Linked DNA regions of Homo sapiens: region 1 is linked to region 2. The links come from fine-mapping of genetic effects on gene expression. Tissue or cell type: whole blood. Region 2 holds a variant in brackets; the other region holds the start of a gene. All regions are shown on one strand. Distances are from middle to middle.

What was found. PIP is the estimated chance that this variant, and not a neighbour inherited with it, causes the effect.
Region 1: DENND5A starts here. The variant in region 2 is fine-mapped to the expression of DENND5A in whole blood (TOPMed, PIP above 0.99).

Annotation. Positions count from the first base shown.
Region 1 is chr11:9,260,674-9,268,778 of GRCh38, reverse strand. DENND5A (DENN domain containing 5A) reads left to right here and starts at 3,429. Exons shown (of 23, transcript NM_015213.4): 1 at 3,429-3,818. The coding sequence starts at 3,710. RefSeq lists enhancers at 3,128-3,197, 4,278-4,397, 4,558-4,897 and silencers at 3,478-3,577, 3,628-3,987, 7,857-7,916.
Region 2 is chr11:9,321,762-9,329,866 of GRCh38, reverse strand. No RefSeq gene overlaps it. Among named protein-coding and RNA genes, the nearest start is that of TMEM41B, 11 kb to the right of the region's middle. The variant T/C (reference allele first, on the strand shown) is at 4,792.

The DNA of each region.
Region 1 (8,105 bases), 61 kb after region 2:
CAAACAAAAATACAAAAAAAAAAAAAAATTAGCCAGGCATGGTGCGCGCGCCTGTAGTCCCAGCTACTTGGGAGGCTGAGGCAGGAGAATCGTTTGAACCTGGGAGGCGGAGGTTGCAGTGAGCCGAGATGGCGCCACTGCACTCTAGCCTGGGTGACAGAGCGAGACTCTCTCAGAAAAAAAAAAAAAAAAAAAAAGAAAAAATCTTAAGAGCATCCCTTTCTATATTTTCTGACTCTCTAAGAAGCAATCACTCTGCCAAACTTATTTCCTACCGGGAAGGAGATCACTTCACAGTTGAGTATTCTGGGCTTCTGAGCAGTTACATTTCCCAGGGCAAATTAATACAGTTATGCATTCGTTTTTAACTTGTGTTTTACGAGTTGAGTTAATATGAGAGGTCGTCTAGCACCAGATCACCCTGGACACCTTGGATAAAAAGTTTCTGGACTTTTCAGTTGAGGACGTTTATTCCTTTCTCAAATTTCTTTTTCCACATCACCCCTAGAGTGATCATTCTCAGATTTGGGTCAGATATCACTCCTTGGCTTGAATTCCTTTACTTTACCTCACTCATCCTCAACTCATATATCTTATAGGATAAATTATTTCTAAAAAATACTATTTATTTATTTATTTATGACAGGGGTCACATTATGTTCTCCACTCTGGTCTCAAACTCCTGGGTTCAAGCAGTCCTCCTGCCTCAGCTGCCCAAAGTGTTGGGATTACCAGCGTGAGTGTGAACCACGACGCCTGGCCGAGGATAAATTCTTTAGCCTGGTATTTGAATCCATGCCTCCTTCCTCTGTTCTCCTTCTTCCTCCCCTGCCCTGGTTTCATTCCCTTTAAACTCTCCATCTCCCATCTTAATGTTAATGAATTACTTGTTGATGCCTGAACATACCCTTTTATCTGTTGCTCCCTGTTGTTACACATACTGAGTTAAACATCTTTCCCTGCCCCTTTTTACCTGAGAAACTTCCTGTTGATCCTCTGGAACTCAGGTCAGAGTATATACCTCCTTCTGGAAACCTTCCCTGACCATTCCCCAATCTGGAAAGATGTCCTCCTTCTGTGCTCTGTAACTTTCTTTTTTTCTTTTTTTTTTTTCAGGGTGTCTCTGTTGCCAGGCTGGAGTGCAGTGGCGCCATCTTGGCTCACTGCAACCTCCACCTCCCGAGTTTAAGCAATTCTCCTGCCTTATCCTCCTGAGTAGCTGGGATTACAGGCACCACCATACCCAGCTAATTTTTATAATTTTAGTACAGATGGGGTTTCACCATGTTGGCCAGGATGGTCTTGATCTCCTGACCTCGTGATCTGCCTGCCTTGGCCACCTAAAGTGCTGGGATTACAGGTGTCAGCCACCACGCCTGGCATATTTATTTATTTATTTATTTATTTATTTAGAGGTAGAGCCTCATTCTGTTGCCCAGGCTAGAGTGCAGTGGCACGATCTCGGCTTACTGCAACCTCTGCCTCTTGAGTTGAAGCGATTCTCCTGCCTCAGCCTCCTGAGGAGCTGGGACTAAAGTTGCCTGCCACCACACCCTGCTAATTTTATATTTTTGGTAGAGATGGGATTTCACCATATTGGTCAGGCTGGTCTTGAACTTCTGACCTTAAGCGATCCGCCAGCCTTGGCCTCCCCAAGTTCTGGGATTACAGGTGTGAGCCACCACGCCCAGCCTCTGTGACTGTTTAACTCACTAATCCCCCTCTACTGTCTCTGTGTCCCCAGCATGCAGGATACGGGTGGAGCATCACCATGAATGGGCGTTTTGAAGCAACCTTCTCCTCCCCACTTTTCTCCCCCTAGTTCAGGCAGGTTAGATACAGGGAGGAACAGGTGCTATGGCTCCGAGAGACAATGGCTATAACCTCTAGGTAAACCTCCCCAAGGGAAACAATATTTGAGAGAAGTACCCAGGAGAACCTAGGAGAGAGCCTAGGCTCAGCCTTTGGGGAAGCCAGCTGCCTTCTACAGCTCTTAGTGGCAGCCTCCCAGAACAAACCGTAAGAGTACTTCCTTCTGGAACAATAATAATAATCCAGGCTGGGGGCTCATTGGCTCATGCCTGTAATCCCAGCACTTTAGGAGGCAGAGGAGGGCGGATCACCTGAGGTCAGGAGTTCGAGACCAGCCTGACCAACACGGTGAATCCCTGTCTCTACTGAATACAAAAAATTAGCCGAGTGTGGTGGTGCGCGCCTGTAATCCTAGCTACTTGGGTGGCTGAGGCAGGAGAATCACTTGAACCTGGGAGGCAGAGGTGCAGTGAGCCGAGATTACGCCATTGCACTCCAGCCTGGGCAACAAGACAGAACTCCGTCTTGAAAAAAAAAATCTGTAATATTTACTGAGTGATTTCCATGTTCCAGGCAGTATTCTCATTGTTTTACCTGTACTTGCATTTACCTTATGTAATTGTCTCAAAAACCATGACGCCAGGCACTTAGAGATTAACTTGCTCAAGGTCAAAAGTAAATGATCGTCAGGATTGAAATCCGAGCATTTTTTTCTAGAGCCCATGCTAGTGACCACTATACCTGTGTTGCCTTTCTGGCCTCTGATCTCCAGTTTCCAACAAAGACACATCTGCCTAGCTTCTATGGGAAAGGAAATCGGAGGGTCCTAGGACAAGGACCAATAGGTAAGTTTCCCTTCGCCTCCTCCCTATCCTCTTACAGGAAAACAGGTTTAGGGGTGGATCTGAGAGTTTTCACAGAGTGAAGAGGAAGAGGAGCTCCCAAATGGCAGGCGCCTCTGGAGGCTTCCAGAGAAAAAAGGAGAGAGCGTGGGAAAAGGGCAGGCTGGGAGGTGGGAGCGGCGAGGAACGGGGAGCTGACCACAAGCCCAGGATTCCAGACCAGGCTTATGTCTCTTAGACTCAGCGTAACCTTGGATAAGTCCTTGCTTCTTTCTGAGACTCAGTTTCCCCGTCTGTAAAATAAGGGTAAATATAAAACCGGCTCATCCGCCCCTGCCAAAAGAGAGGACAGGGAGAAGGCCCTGTCTGGGGTCTAGGCTGACACGCTGCAGCTAGGATTAGGTGAGCTTCCGAGCTCAGTCGTGAGACCCCATCCTCATGGCAAGGCCGCGCTAAGATCTCTGGACCTCTGCTTGCTGGGTGGGTGGTTGGGGGCAGAGCATGGGCCAAATGCCCGGCTCTGCAGGCTGCGCCCACTCTTCTCGCACCTCCTCAGCCCTCCCTAAAGGAGTCTCAATCCCGGGGGAGTGGCAGTTGCGGGCGACCAAGCAGTCACCGGCTGCGCTGCGGCGACCTCCCGGGAAGCTGCGGCCGGCGGGGTCCGAAGAGCATCACGTCATCCTTTCCCCCAGGAGCCCGCCCCCTCCCAGACGGCGCCTGCGCAGGCGCGGTAGGAGGAGGGTCACGGTGGGGGCTGTCCACGCGCTCTCCGCCCTTCTCCAGGCTCGCTCGGGCCGCGGCGCTCTCGGCTAGCTGCAGCGGCGGCGGCGCGGAGGGGAAGGCATCCAGGATGCGGTGCGGGGCGGCCCGGTGCCCCCCCGCCCCGTCACGGCAGCCGCGGCGGCCGAGGGGACCGGGCCAGGGCCGGGGGCGGCGGCCCGAGCCGCGGTAGCGGCGGCGGCGGGAGGGGCGGCCTGAGGGCGGACGGGCGGGCGCCCGGGTTGCGGGGGCTCGGTGCCGCTCCGCACTGCCCGGCCGGTCTCGGCCCCGGCGCCATGAGTGGCGGCGGCGGCGGAGGGGGCTCGGCGCCCAGTCGCTTCGCCGACTACTTTGTCATCTGCGGACTGGACACGGAGACCGGGCTGGAGCCGGACGAGCTGTCGGGTGAGTGCGCGCCGAGCCCGGGGCGCTTTCCCGCGCCCGCTGTCGTCGGGGACCCCAGAAGAAACCTTCCTTCAGCCCCGCTTTGTCCCGGGAGCCGGGCGAGTGTCGGCCGGGAGGACCAGGGCGGGCGCGGGCGAAGGGGGCTTTGGACTGGAGGGGGGAAACGGATGAGGGGCTCTGAGCCATGAGGGGTCCAAACCTACGGCCCGCTGCGCAGTGGCCACGTCTTCGGCGACCAGAAAGAGGGAGGGTTGTGTGTTCTCAGTTTGGTGTAGGTTGAGTGACTTCGTTTAAAATAAAGGAAAGCTTGTCCTCTGGCACCCATTAGGGAGGGAAGGCGTCCCACGTCCTAGTGAAAGTAAGTTCCACCCAGACTTAAAAAAAAGGAAAACAAAAACTTGGTGAGTTTATCTGGCCACTTCCCAAGAAGCTTGTGATACTAGTTCCTCAAAACCGTTATACCCCAGCCCTGGGCTGGGCCCCCTGAGTCAGATTGCAGCTCTGCGCGTCTGGATGGGATATGAAGTAATAAAGTGAACTTGGGCGGCACCAAGAAGAGTAGGAACTCCCTTAGCCTTGGAAAGGGCTTGTATCCCGGGGCCATGCCTTTTTTGAAAAGTAATTTATGTCCTTTATGAGGACAGAGGCGTTTGTGAATAAAAGGGTAGCAGCATTGTAGTTGGAGAGGCTTGGTGTGTTCTGATGCGTTTCAAGTCATATTTGAAAGGGAAAGTGATGAGGGGAGTCAAAGATGGGGCCCTGACCAGATTTGGCACTCACTGCAGAAGGCCGTGAAAATTATACAGTCCCCGTGAATTTTCCACTGCACTGTCATTGGAGTCTTTGAATTGTAACAGTTTTGAAAATAAGTTTTTGTCTGGAGTTTCCAGTTAGTGGGTTTCAAGTGGGTGGAGGTTTGTCGGGTTGTACTTTAAGGTTGTGTCATCCTGATGAGGGGGACTCCTTTTCACTTTTCTGTCACTGTAAAGTTTCTCTTTCGAAAGTGATTATCCTGTTGACTAATCTTACTCGGCTTCAACGATGACAAGACAGTTTTGTTTTTGGGCACCAGAAAAAGTCCAGTGTTTCTTTTTTTTTTTTTTTTTTTTTTTGAGACGGAGTCTCGCTCTGTCGCCCAGGCCGGACTGCGGACTGCAGTGGCGCAATCTCGGCTCACTGCAAGCTCCGCTTCCCGGGTTCACGCCATTCTCCTGCCTCAGCCTCCCGAGTAGCTGGGACTACAGGCGCCCGCCACCGCGCCCGGCTAATTTTTTGTATTTTTAGTAGAGACGGGGTTTCACCTTGTTAGCCAGGATGGTCTCGATCTCCTGACCTCATGATCCACCCGCCTCGGCCTCCCAAAGTGCTGGGATTACAGGCGTGAGCCACCGCGCCCGGCCCAGTGTTTCTTATGAAAAAAAAATTAGGCGGGGCGCGGTGGCCCACCACCCGGCGGCTCAGGGGTAATCCCAGCACTTTGGGAGGCCGAGGCGGGCGGGTCACCTGAGGTCAGGAGTTCGAGACCAATTTGGCCAACATGGTGAAACCCCCGTCTCTACTAAAAATACAAAAATTAGCCGGGCGTCGTGGCGCGTGCCTGTAATCCCAGCTACTCAGGAGGCTGAGGTAGGAGGATCGCTTTAACCCAGGAGGGGGAGGTTGCAGTGAGCTGAGATTGCGCCAGTCTGGGTGATTGCGCCACTACACTCCAGTCTGGGTGATAAAGCGAGACTCTGTCTGGGAAAAAAGAAAAAGAAGAAAAAAGCATGATAAATTCATGCTTTAACAAGGTTAGAAAAAAATGAGCTATTTCCTCAATAGCAGGTGGAGAAAATATGAAGCAGTAATATAATTAATATTAGGCTTTTTGTCGGGGTAGTTTTATGGTTTCTAATTTACTTTAAAAAAATTTTAGTTTTAGGCCGGGCGCGGTGGCTCACGCCTGTAATCCCAGCACTTTGGGAGGCTGAGGCGGGCGGATCACGAAGTCAGGAGATCGAGACCATCCGGGCTTACAGGGTGAAACCCCGTCTCTACTAAAAATACAAAAAATTAGCCGGGCGTGGTGGCGGGCGCCTGTAGTCCCAGCTACTCAGGAGGCTGAGGCAGGAGAATGGCGTGAACCCGGGAGGCGGAGCTCGCAGTGAGCCCAGATCGCGCCACTGCACTCCAGCACTCTAGCCTGGGCGACAGAGCGAGACTCCGTCCAAAAAAAAAAAATTATTTTGATGAGTACCTAATAATTGTTCAAGTTTATCTTTTAAGGTCTTCAAATTCTTATAGTACAGATGTTTTTCATCTTTTTCATATGTAGTAAGTTTGTGACTTTGATGTAATTTTTGGAATTCGGTTCAGGGTATTGGTGTTGGAAGGGACCTCAGAGGGGAAAATGAGGCCCAGGAAGGACAGTGGGGCCTGTATACACTAGTTAATTGCTTGGTCCAGTGCTCTTCTCATGACATTAAACTGCATCTCATTGGCCTGGCTGGAGGTCTTTAGAAAACACTAACATGTTGAGAAATATTAAAAACAACATAATTCTTCTCAGTAAAAGAAACTAAGGTGGTGGAATAAACTTTTTTTTATGCGTGTTTTTGAGTGTCAAATTGTATGAACACTTGGTTTGAGAAGATAGAATGTTTTGCGAATGATAGAGCATAAGAATGAAGCTGGGAAGTTAACTGTTAGCGAGAGCATGAGTTTAGGGTAATATTCCTGCTCTCCTATTGACTATCTTTGTGATTGGGAGCAAGTTAGAGATAACCCTGTCAGGGTCCTCATCTATAAAAAAAGAATGTAAATAAAAATAATCTCATCAAGTAGACCTTCAAAAATGTTTAAAAACTGTCTTTCAACATTTCATTAAAAAAGAAATGTTACTGTCTTAATGGATATGTGTTAATTATCTGGCTTTTTGGCAAGCTAAAATTATATCCTTGTGAAAGTTTATTGGGATAATAAAGAAAGGGGGATGAGTTGTATAAAATGTGTAAAGAGGGGTATTTTCTGTTTTTTTAAAAATGTGGTTGCAGTAGTGGAATGCCGAGACCACATTTCCGATAGGTGGCCTTTGTTAGAGTATGCAGTGTTGGAAGGATTTTTTTTCCCTCTTCATTTCATTTCTGGTGGGTTGGTAGGGGAATCTGAACTATCCAGAGGGAATCTTTTTTTTTTTTTTTTTTTGAGACACAGTCTCACTCTGTTGCCCCAGCTGGAATGCAGTGCTGCAATAGTGGCTCACTGAAACCTCCGTCTCCCAGGTTCAAGCAATTCTGCCTCAGCCTCCCGAGTAGCTGGGATTATGAGCCGCGCGTGCCACCACATCAGGCTAATTTTTGTATCTTTAGTAGAGATGGGGTTTCACCATGTTGGCCAGGCTGGTCTTGAATTCTTGACCTCAAGTGATCTGCCCACCTCGGCCTCCCAAAATGCTAGGATTACAGGCGTGAGCCACCACTCCCAGAGGGAATCTTTGAATAAAACAAAGCAGAGTACAAATAGCAGGTTCTTCCTGAGAGTCTCCAGGGTGCATTTTCTCTCCTCAGCCTGCCTTGTAGCTCCCAAACTGATGATATCATACTCAGTAACTAACTACAGGAAATTGTAATTTGTAGCCAGGTTCTCCAAGAAGGTATTAAGGAGTCTCTAAGAAGGTGCACTCCACACAGTTAACTTACATAGCTCAGGTAGCATCTACATTCTTAAAAAGTGAACCCAGAATAAGCAAATCAAAGATGCTCGGTGTTCCTTCTTGTTTTGTGGAGAAAGGTTAAGATTCATTCCTCTCTGTCTGCAACAAATAAACATGGAGGCTGGGCGCAGTAGCTCACACCTGTAATCCCAGTACTTTGGGAGGCTGAGGTGGGTGAATTGCTTGAGCCCAGGAGTTTGAGACCAGCCTGGGCAGCACGGCAAGACTCTTATCTCTACAGAAAGTACAAAAAATTAGCTGGGTGTGGTGGCATGCACCTGTGGTCCCAGCTGCTCAGGAAGCTGAGGTGAGAAGGTCACTTGAGTCTCAGAGGCAGAGGTTGCAGTGAACTGAGATTGTGACACTGCACTCCAGCCTGAGCAACAGAGTGAGACCCTGTCTCAAATAAACAAATACAACTAAAAATAAAAAATAAAAAAACCCAAATAAGCATAGAGCTTGCTGTGTTTAATATAGACTGAGGTAATTGGATTTTGTAGGAATCTCTTCCTGTCACTTCTTTCCCTTTCTTGCAGACTCAGCATTTAGGCAAGTAATGTAGTTGTTTTTTGTGCAAGGAATTGAGGAATGTGTGA
Region 2 (8,105 bases):
CAGATAATTTAGACTATTTAGATACTAGAATTATTTACTGGCCTGGGCAGATAGCATCAAGTGAAATGGGGCAGAGGGCCAAGCCTCAAAGCCTGAACCACCTGGACTCCTGTCCAGCACTCTCTCCACCCAGTACAAATGAAAGGCCAGCTGAGGCCAAGTGCAGTGGTTCACACCTGTAATCCCAGCATTTTGGGAGGCCTAGATGGGAGGATCACTTGAGCTTAAGAGTTTGAGACCAGCCTAGGCAACATGGCAAAATCCTGTCTCTACAAAAAAAAATACAAAAAAGTTTAGCTGGGCGTGGTGTTGCACGCCTGTAGTCCCAGCCACTTGGGAGGCTGAGGTGGGAGGATCGTTAGAGCCCAGGAGGCGGAGATTGCAGTGAGCCGAGATCGTGCCACTGCACTCCAGCCTGAGTGAGTGAGACCTTGTCTCAAAATAAGTAAATGAAAGTCCAGCTGAGCATCCTCCATTCTTTTGAAACTTGAGTGATGTCAATCCAGGGAGGTTGGCCTGGATGATTGCCCTTGACAGGAGCCTAGGCCTTTCCCCAAACAGTTTGGGGACAGAACTCACTGCTGCCCCAGTATTGGAAGGTGCAGACCCTGGCTACCCTGCAACCATAGTCGGCTTCTTCTTTCCAGCTTCACCAGCTGGTTTCCAGGGACCTGATCCTATTGGCTTTTGGTCTGCCTTGTCTGACAGCTTCCTGAATAGTAAGACTTGAAGATTAGTTCAGAATGCCTGACTCCAGCCACCACATTCTAATCTATTTTTAGGACAACATCCTCCTTCTCTGGCTCTCTGAGAAACTGCTCTTCTTTTTCTGTTTCTAAACTATTTCCATTCCCACCTTAGCCTGAGGTCTCCTCATCTGACAAAGCAAAGCTTAGGGGTTCCATTTCCTGCCCACAGCCCAGGGAGAAGATGCTGTTTTCACTAAATTCCTCTAGTCAAGGAAGAGGTAAGAAGACTTCACATTATATTAAATTATTATTATATATATACATATACATATATATATTTTTTGAGATGGAGTCTGCTCTGTCGCCCAGGCTGGAGTGCAGTGGCACGATCTCGGCTCACTGCAACCTCCGCCTCCCAGTTTCAAGCAATTCTCCTGTCTCAGCCTCCTGAGTTGCTGGGATTACAGGTGCACGTCACCACATCCGACTAATTTTTTTGTATTTTTAGTAGAGATGGGGTTTCACCATATCTGTCAGGCTAGTCTCAAACTCCTGACCTCCTGATCCACCCACCTTGGCCTCCCAAAGTGCTGGGATTACAGGCGTGAGCCACTGTGCCCACATGATATTAAATTAAAGAAGCATAGCAAAAATTGTATGCCCACTAACATTACAAGCATTTAAAATCTTTTTGCTTTAATTGCTTTATTCTAATTATTAAGGTAACACAAACCAATTGCAAAAACTTCAGAAAATACAATATAGGCGGGGCGTGGCAGCTCACGCCTGTAATCCCAGCACTTTAGGAGGCCATGGTGGGTGGATCACCTGAGGTCAGGGGTTCGAGACCAGCCTTTACAACCTGGTGAGCCCCATCTTTACTAAAAATGCAAAAATTAGTTGGGCGCGATGGCAGGCACCTGTAATCCCAGCTACTCAGGAGGCTGAGGCAGGAGAATTGTATGAACCCAGGAGGCGGAGGTTACAGTGAACCGAGATCACGCCATTGCACTCCAGCCTGGGCGACAAGAGCGAACCTCCATCTCAAAAAAAAAAAAAAAAAAGATTGCTTTGGCTATTGGGGGTCCCCTGGATTTCATATGAATTTTAGGATCAGCTTGTCAAATTCTGCAAACAATCTAGCTAGGATTTTTTTTTTTTTTTTTTTTTCGAGACGGAGTCTCACCCTGTTGCCCAGGCTGGAGTGCAGTGGACCGATCTTGTCTCACCACAATCTCTGCTTCCTGGGTTCAAGTGATTCGCCCGCCTTAGCCTACCAAGTAGCTGGGATTATAGGCATGCACCATGATGCCCAGCTTTTTTTTTTTTTTTTTTTTTTGAGACGGAGTCTTGCAGTGTTGCCCAGGCTGGAGTGCAGTGGCACAATCTCAGCTCACTGCAAGCTCCGCCTCCTGGGTTCATGCCATTCTCCTACCTCAGCCTCCTGAGTAGCCGGGACTACAGGCGCCCGCCACCATGCCCAACTAATTTTGTTTTGTATTTTTAGTAAGATGGGGTTTCACTGTGTTAGCCAGGATGGTCTCGATCTCCTGACCTCATGATCCGCCTGCCTCTGCCTCCCAAAGTGCTGGGATTACAGGTGTGAGCCACAGTGCCTGGCCTTTTTTTTGTATTTTTAGTAGAAACGGGGTTTCAACATATTGGCCAGCCTGGTCTTAAACTCCCGACCTCGGATGATCCACCCACCTCGGCCTCCCAAATTGCTGAGATTACAGGCGTGAGTCACTGCACCTGGCCTGGAATTTGTTTTGTTTTTGTTTTTGTTTTGAGACGAAGTCTTCCTTTGTCACCCAGTCTGGAGTGCAGTGGCACGATCTTGGCTCACTGCAACCTCTGACTGCCAGGTTCAAGTGATTCTCTTGCCTCAGACTCCTGAGTAGCTGGGATTACAGGTGTGTGCCACCACATCTGGCTAATATTTGTATTTTTAGTAGAGTTGGGGATTAGCCATGTTGACCAGGCTGGTCTGGAACTCCTGACCTCAGGTGAGATCTGCCTGCCTCTGTCTCCCACCGTGCTGGGATTACAGGCATGAGCCACGGTGCCTAGCCATACATGTATGTCTTCTTCTGAGAAGTGTCTATTCAATTCCTTTGCCCATCTTTTTCCTTTTTTTTCTATTGCTACTGCACAAATTAACCTTGGTCCATTATTTAATGGGTTTCCTTGGGTTTTGCTTGTTGATTTAAGTTTCTTATTGATTCTGAATATTACACTTTTGTCAGAAGCATAGTTTGCAAATAGTTTCTCCCATTTTGTAGCTTCTCTGTTTACTCTGTTGATAATTGATTTTTCTGTGCAGCTCTTTAGTTTAATTAGGTCCTACTTGTCAATTTTTGTTTTTGTTGCAATTGCTTTTGGAGTCGACATCATGGAGTCTTTGCCTGGGCCCACAACCAGAATGGTATTTCCTAGGTTTTCTTCTGAGTTTTTATAGTTTTGGGGTTTTACATTTCAGTCTTTAATCTATCTTGAGTTTATTTTTGTATATGGTGTAAGGAGGGGGTATACTTTCAACTTCTGTCTGTGTCTAGCTAGTTATATCAGTGCCATTTATGGAATAGGGAGTCCTTTCCCCATTGCTTGTTACTGTTGGCTTTGTTGAAGATCAGATGGTTGTATGTGTGTGGCTTTATTTTTGGGTTTTCTAATCTATTCCATTGGTCTACGTGTCTAATCTATTCCATTGGTCTATGGTACCAGTACCATGCTGTTTTGGTTACTGTAACCTTGTAGTTTGGTTTGAAGTTGTTTTGGCTTTGGATTGTTTTGGCTATTTGGGCTCTTTTTTGGTTACAAATGAATTTTAGAATGTCTTTTTTTTTTTTTTTTGAGATGGAGTCTCGCTGTGTTGCCCCAGGCTGGAGTGTAGTGGCATAATCTCGGCTCACTGCAACCTCCACCTCCTGGGTTCAAGCAGTTCTCCTGCCTCAGCCTCTCCAGTAGCTGGGATTATAGGCACCCACTACCACGCCTGGCTAATTGTTTTGTATTTTTAGTAGATATGGGGTTTCACCATGTTGGCCAGGCTGGTTTCGAACTGTTGACCTCAAGCGATCTGCCCACTTCGGCCTCCCAAATTGCTGGGATTACAGGCATGAGCCACCGTGCCTGGCTGTATATTTCTAATTCTGTGAAAATTAGAATTTTTGAACTCTTGACCTTAAGTGATCGGTTGGCTTCAGCCTCCTTTGGGAGGCAGGTGGATCACTTAAGGTCAGGAGTTCAAGACCAGTCTGGCCAACCTGGCGAAACCTTGTCTCTACTACAAATACAAAAATTAGCCGGGCACGGTGGCAGGTGCCTGTAATCCTAGCTACTCGGGAGGCTGAGGCAGGAGAAACTCTTGAGCCTGAGAGGCAGAGGTTGCAGTGAGCTAAGGTTGGGCCACTGCACTCCAGCCTGGACGACAGAGTGAGATTATGTCCCTCGCCACCGAAAAAAAAAAAAAGAAAGAAAGAAAAAGAAAAATGTCAATAGTAGTTTGATAGAGATAGCATTGAATCTGTATTGAATCTGTAAATTGCTTGGACAGTTTGGCCATTTTAACAATATTGATTCTTCCTATCCATGATCATGAGCATGGAAGATTTTTCAATTTGTTTGTATTGTTTCTAATTTCTTTCAGCAGTGTTTTGTAATTCTCATTGTAGAGATCTTTCACCTCCCTCCCCGGTTAGCTGTATTCCTAGGTATTTTATTCTTTTTTTTTTTTTGAGATGGGAGTCTCGCTCTGTCACCAGGCTGGAGTGCAGTGTCAAGATCTTAGCTCACTGCAACCTCCACCTCCTGAGTTTAAGCAATTCTTCTGCCTCAGCCTCCAGAGTAGTGTGCACCACCATGCCCGGCTAATTTTTGTATTTTTTTTTTTGAGACAGAGTCTCGCTCTGTTGCCCAGGCTGGAGTGCAGTGACGCGATCTCGGCTCACTGCAACCTCCACCTCCCGGGTTCAAGCGATTCTCCTAACTCAGCCTCCCGAGTAGCTGGGACTACAGGCACCCACTACCACACCTGGCTAATTTTTTTGTATTTTCAGTAGAGACAGGGTTTCTCCACGTTGGCCAGGCTAGTCCTGAACTC[T/C]GTACCTCAGGTGATCCGCCCGCCTCAGCCTCCCAAATGCTGGGATTACAGGCGTGAGCCACTGCACCCAGCCAATTTTTGTATTTTTAGTAGAGACGTGGTTTCACCATGTTGACCAAGCTGGTCTCGAACTCCTGACCTCAGGTGATCTGCCCGCCTCAGGCTCCCAAAGGGCTGGGATTACAGGCATGAGCCACCATGCCCGGCCAATTTTTGTGTTTTTAGTAGAGACATGGTTTCACCATGTTGGCCAGGATGGTCTCGATCTCTTGACTTCCTGATCTGCCCGCCTCGGCCTCCTAAAATGCTGGGATTACAGGCGTGAGCCACCGTGCCCGGCCTAATTTTTGTGTTATTAGTAGAGACAGGGTTTCACCATGTTGGCCAGGCTGGTCTCGAACTCCTGACCACAGATGATCCACCCGCCTTGGCCTTCCAAAGTGCTGGGATTACAGGCATGAGCCACCAGGCCTGGCCATGTAAGTGTTTTCAACATCAGACTTTGTTTTAATCTCTGCTGAGCAACAGACTCATATTTAATGCTGTAGTGTTTATAGGCATTTGGAAAGCTTTCATGTATTTCAAAGGCCTTCATTGTACAAAAACATGTTGAGAAAGGCACTGTCCTGAATCACCAAAGGGCGCTTATAGTTTGGTGGCAGATAAGAAGTCATTAAAATATAATTAGATAATTACAAAAATAGTGGCAATCCAGGAGAGAATGTACCTATCAGGACAAGAGTTGTGGCAATCCAGGAGAGAATGTACCTATCAGGACAAGAGTTGACCTTAAGTCAACTCTTCAAAGATAAGCAGTAGTTGATCTTAGGAAACACTAAGCAGAAAACATTAAAGGCAGGCTGGGTGCGGTGGCTCACACCTGTAATCCCAGCACTTTCGGAGGCTGAGGTGGGCAGATCACGAGGTTAGAAGATCGAGACCATCCTGGCTAACACGGTGAAACCCCGTCTCTACTAAAAGTACAAAAAATTAGCTGGGCGTGGTGGCAGGCACCTGTAGTCCCAGCTACTCAGGAGGCTGAGGGAGGAGAATGGTGTGAACCTGGGAGGCAGAGCTTGCAGTGCGCTGAGATCGCACCACTGCACTCCAGCCTGGGCGACAGTGCAAGACTCTGTCTCAAAAAAAAAAAAAGACATTAAAGGCAAAGAGTTAACTCCTGCAAGGACACAGAAACACAAATGAGTATGACATGTTCAGGGTACTTACTACATGTGGTTCAAAATTGTTTCACTCATTCATTCATTTGTTCATTCATGTTGGATTCAAAGTCAGCTGGATCATTTGAGGTTATGTCAGATCATGAAGGGCTTCAAGATTATTATTATTATTATTATTATTATTATTATTATTATTATTTTCTTTTTTGAGACAGAGTCTTGCTGTTGCCTAGGCTGGAGTGCAGTGGCATGATCTCGGCTCACTGCAACCTTCTCCTCCTGGGCTCAAGCAATTCTCCCGCCTCAGCCTCCTGAGTAGCTGGGATTACAGGTATGTGCCATCACAACCAGCTAATTTTTGTATTTTTGTAGAGATGGCGTTTCACCCTGTTGGCCAGTCTGGTCTTGAAGTCCTGACTTCAGGCAATCCACCCGCCTTGGCCTCCCAAAGTGCTGGGATTACAGGTGTGAGCCACTGCACCCGGCCCAAGATTATTTCTTGGAGACCGCTCTAGCAACAATATGGAAAACTGATTAGAGGTGAATAAGAAGAGAAATCATGATATCTAAATAAAGAAAGAGTAAGGAGGCTGGGCACTGTGGCTCACACCTGTAATTCCAGCACTTTGGGAGGCTGAGGCGGGTGGATCACCTGAGGTCAGGAGTTTGAGATCAGCCTGGCCAACTGGTGAAACCCCGTCTCTACTAAAAATACAAAAAATTAGCCGGGCGTGGTGGCGGGCGCCTGTAATCCCAGCTACTTGGGAGGCTGAGGCAGGCAGGAGAATTGCTTGAACCCGGGAGGTAGAGGTTGCAGTGAGCCGAGATCATGCCACTGCACTCCAGCCTGGGGGACAGAGTGAGACTCTGTAAATAAACAAACAAACAAACAAATAAAGAGTAAGGAGTTGGAGACCTGCCTGGACCTGGCATTTGAATGGATGGGGGTGTGAATATGTCGACCTAAAAGGAAGAGGCTGAGGCACAAAATATAAAGAGTTTACTTGAGCCCAAGTGAGGACAGCTGCCCAGAAGACTCAGACACAAGTAACCTTGGAGATGAGCTCCATCCAGGCTTTGTTACAAGTAGGGTTTTGTTTAAGGTAAAAGAGGGGGACAGGGAGCAGTCTGATGCAAAATTGTTTGTCAGGAATTCTCATTGGTTTACACACATAACATTGATTAGTGATTGGCTATACATTGTTAAACTACAGTGTGCGGATTATTTGTGTCCAGTGCATCATTTTTAGGTTACTTTATAGCTACTTGTGGCAATTGCAGGCAGTTTCAGGAGAAGAATACATAGCTTGTAAGGGAGGAGTAGGACATGATTGGGGTCTCATTTGAATGTCTTTCTGGGCCTGACAGTTTAAAGGACTTGCATTTCTCAGATAAAAGTTTTTCTTTTCTCAAAGGACAAGAAGGAATTCATTCATTCATTTCACAAGTTGAATTTAACAAATGTTAAATGAGAATTCTTAGATTTGCCTGAGCAAAAGGGGAGCTCGTGGTGTCATCTGCAACGTCTGTGAATACAGGGAGTGGATAAAGTTTGAGAGGTAATATATTCATTTCAGATTTGGATATGCTGAATTTGAGATGTTCGTGGTACACCCTGGCGTAAATGTGTATTAAGTTCTATGTATATCATTCTGGCATTTAAGATAAACATTTGTCATCTGTGTATAATACGCGGTTGTTGAAGTCATGACCTAGATGTTGCCTAGAAAGAGTCATAGGTGAGGCCGGGCGTGGTGGCTCACGCCTGTAATCCCAGCGCTTTGGGAGGCTGAGGCGGGCGGATCATGAGGTCAGGAGTTCGAGACCAGCCTGGCCAACATAGTGAAACCCCATCGCTACTAAAAATACAGAAATTAGCCAGGCGTGGTGGCACGGGTCTGTAGTCCCAGCTACTTGGGAGGCTGAGACGGGAGAACTGCTTGAAACCGGGAAGCAGTGGTTGCAGTGAGCCAAGATGGTGCCAACATACTCCAGCCTGGGCCACAGAACGAGACTCTGCCTCAAAAATAATAATAATAAAATAACCAAAAGCAGTGGACATGGTGGCGCACGCCTGTAGTCCCAGCTACTCTGGGAGGCTGAGGTGGGAGAATCGCTTGAACCCGGAAGTTCAAG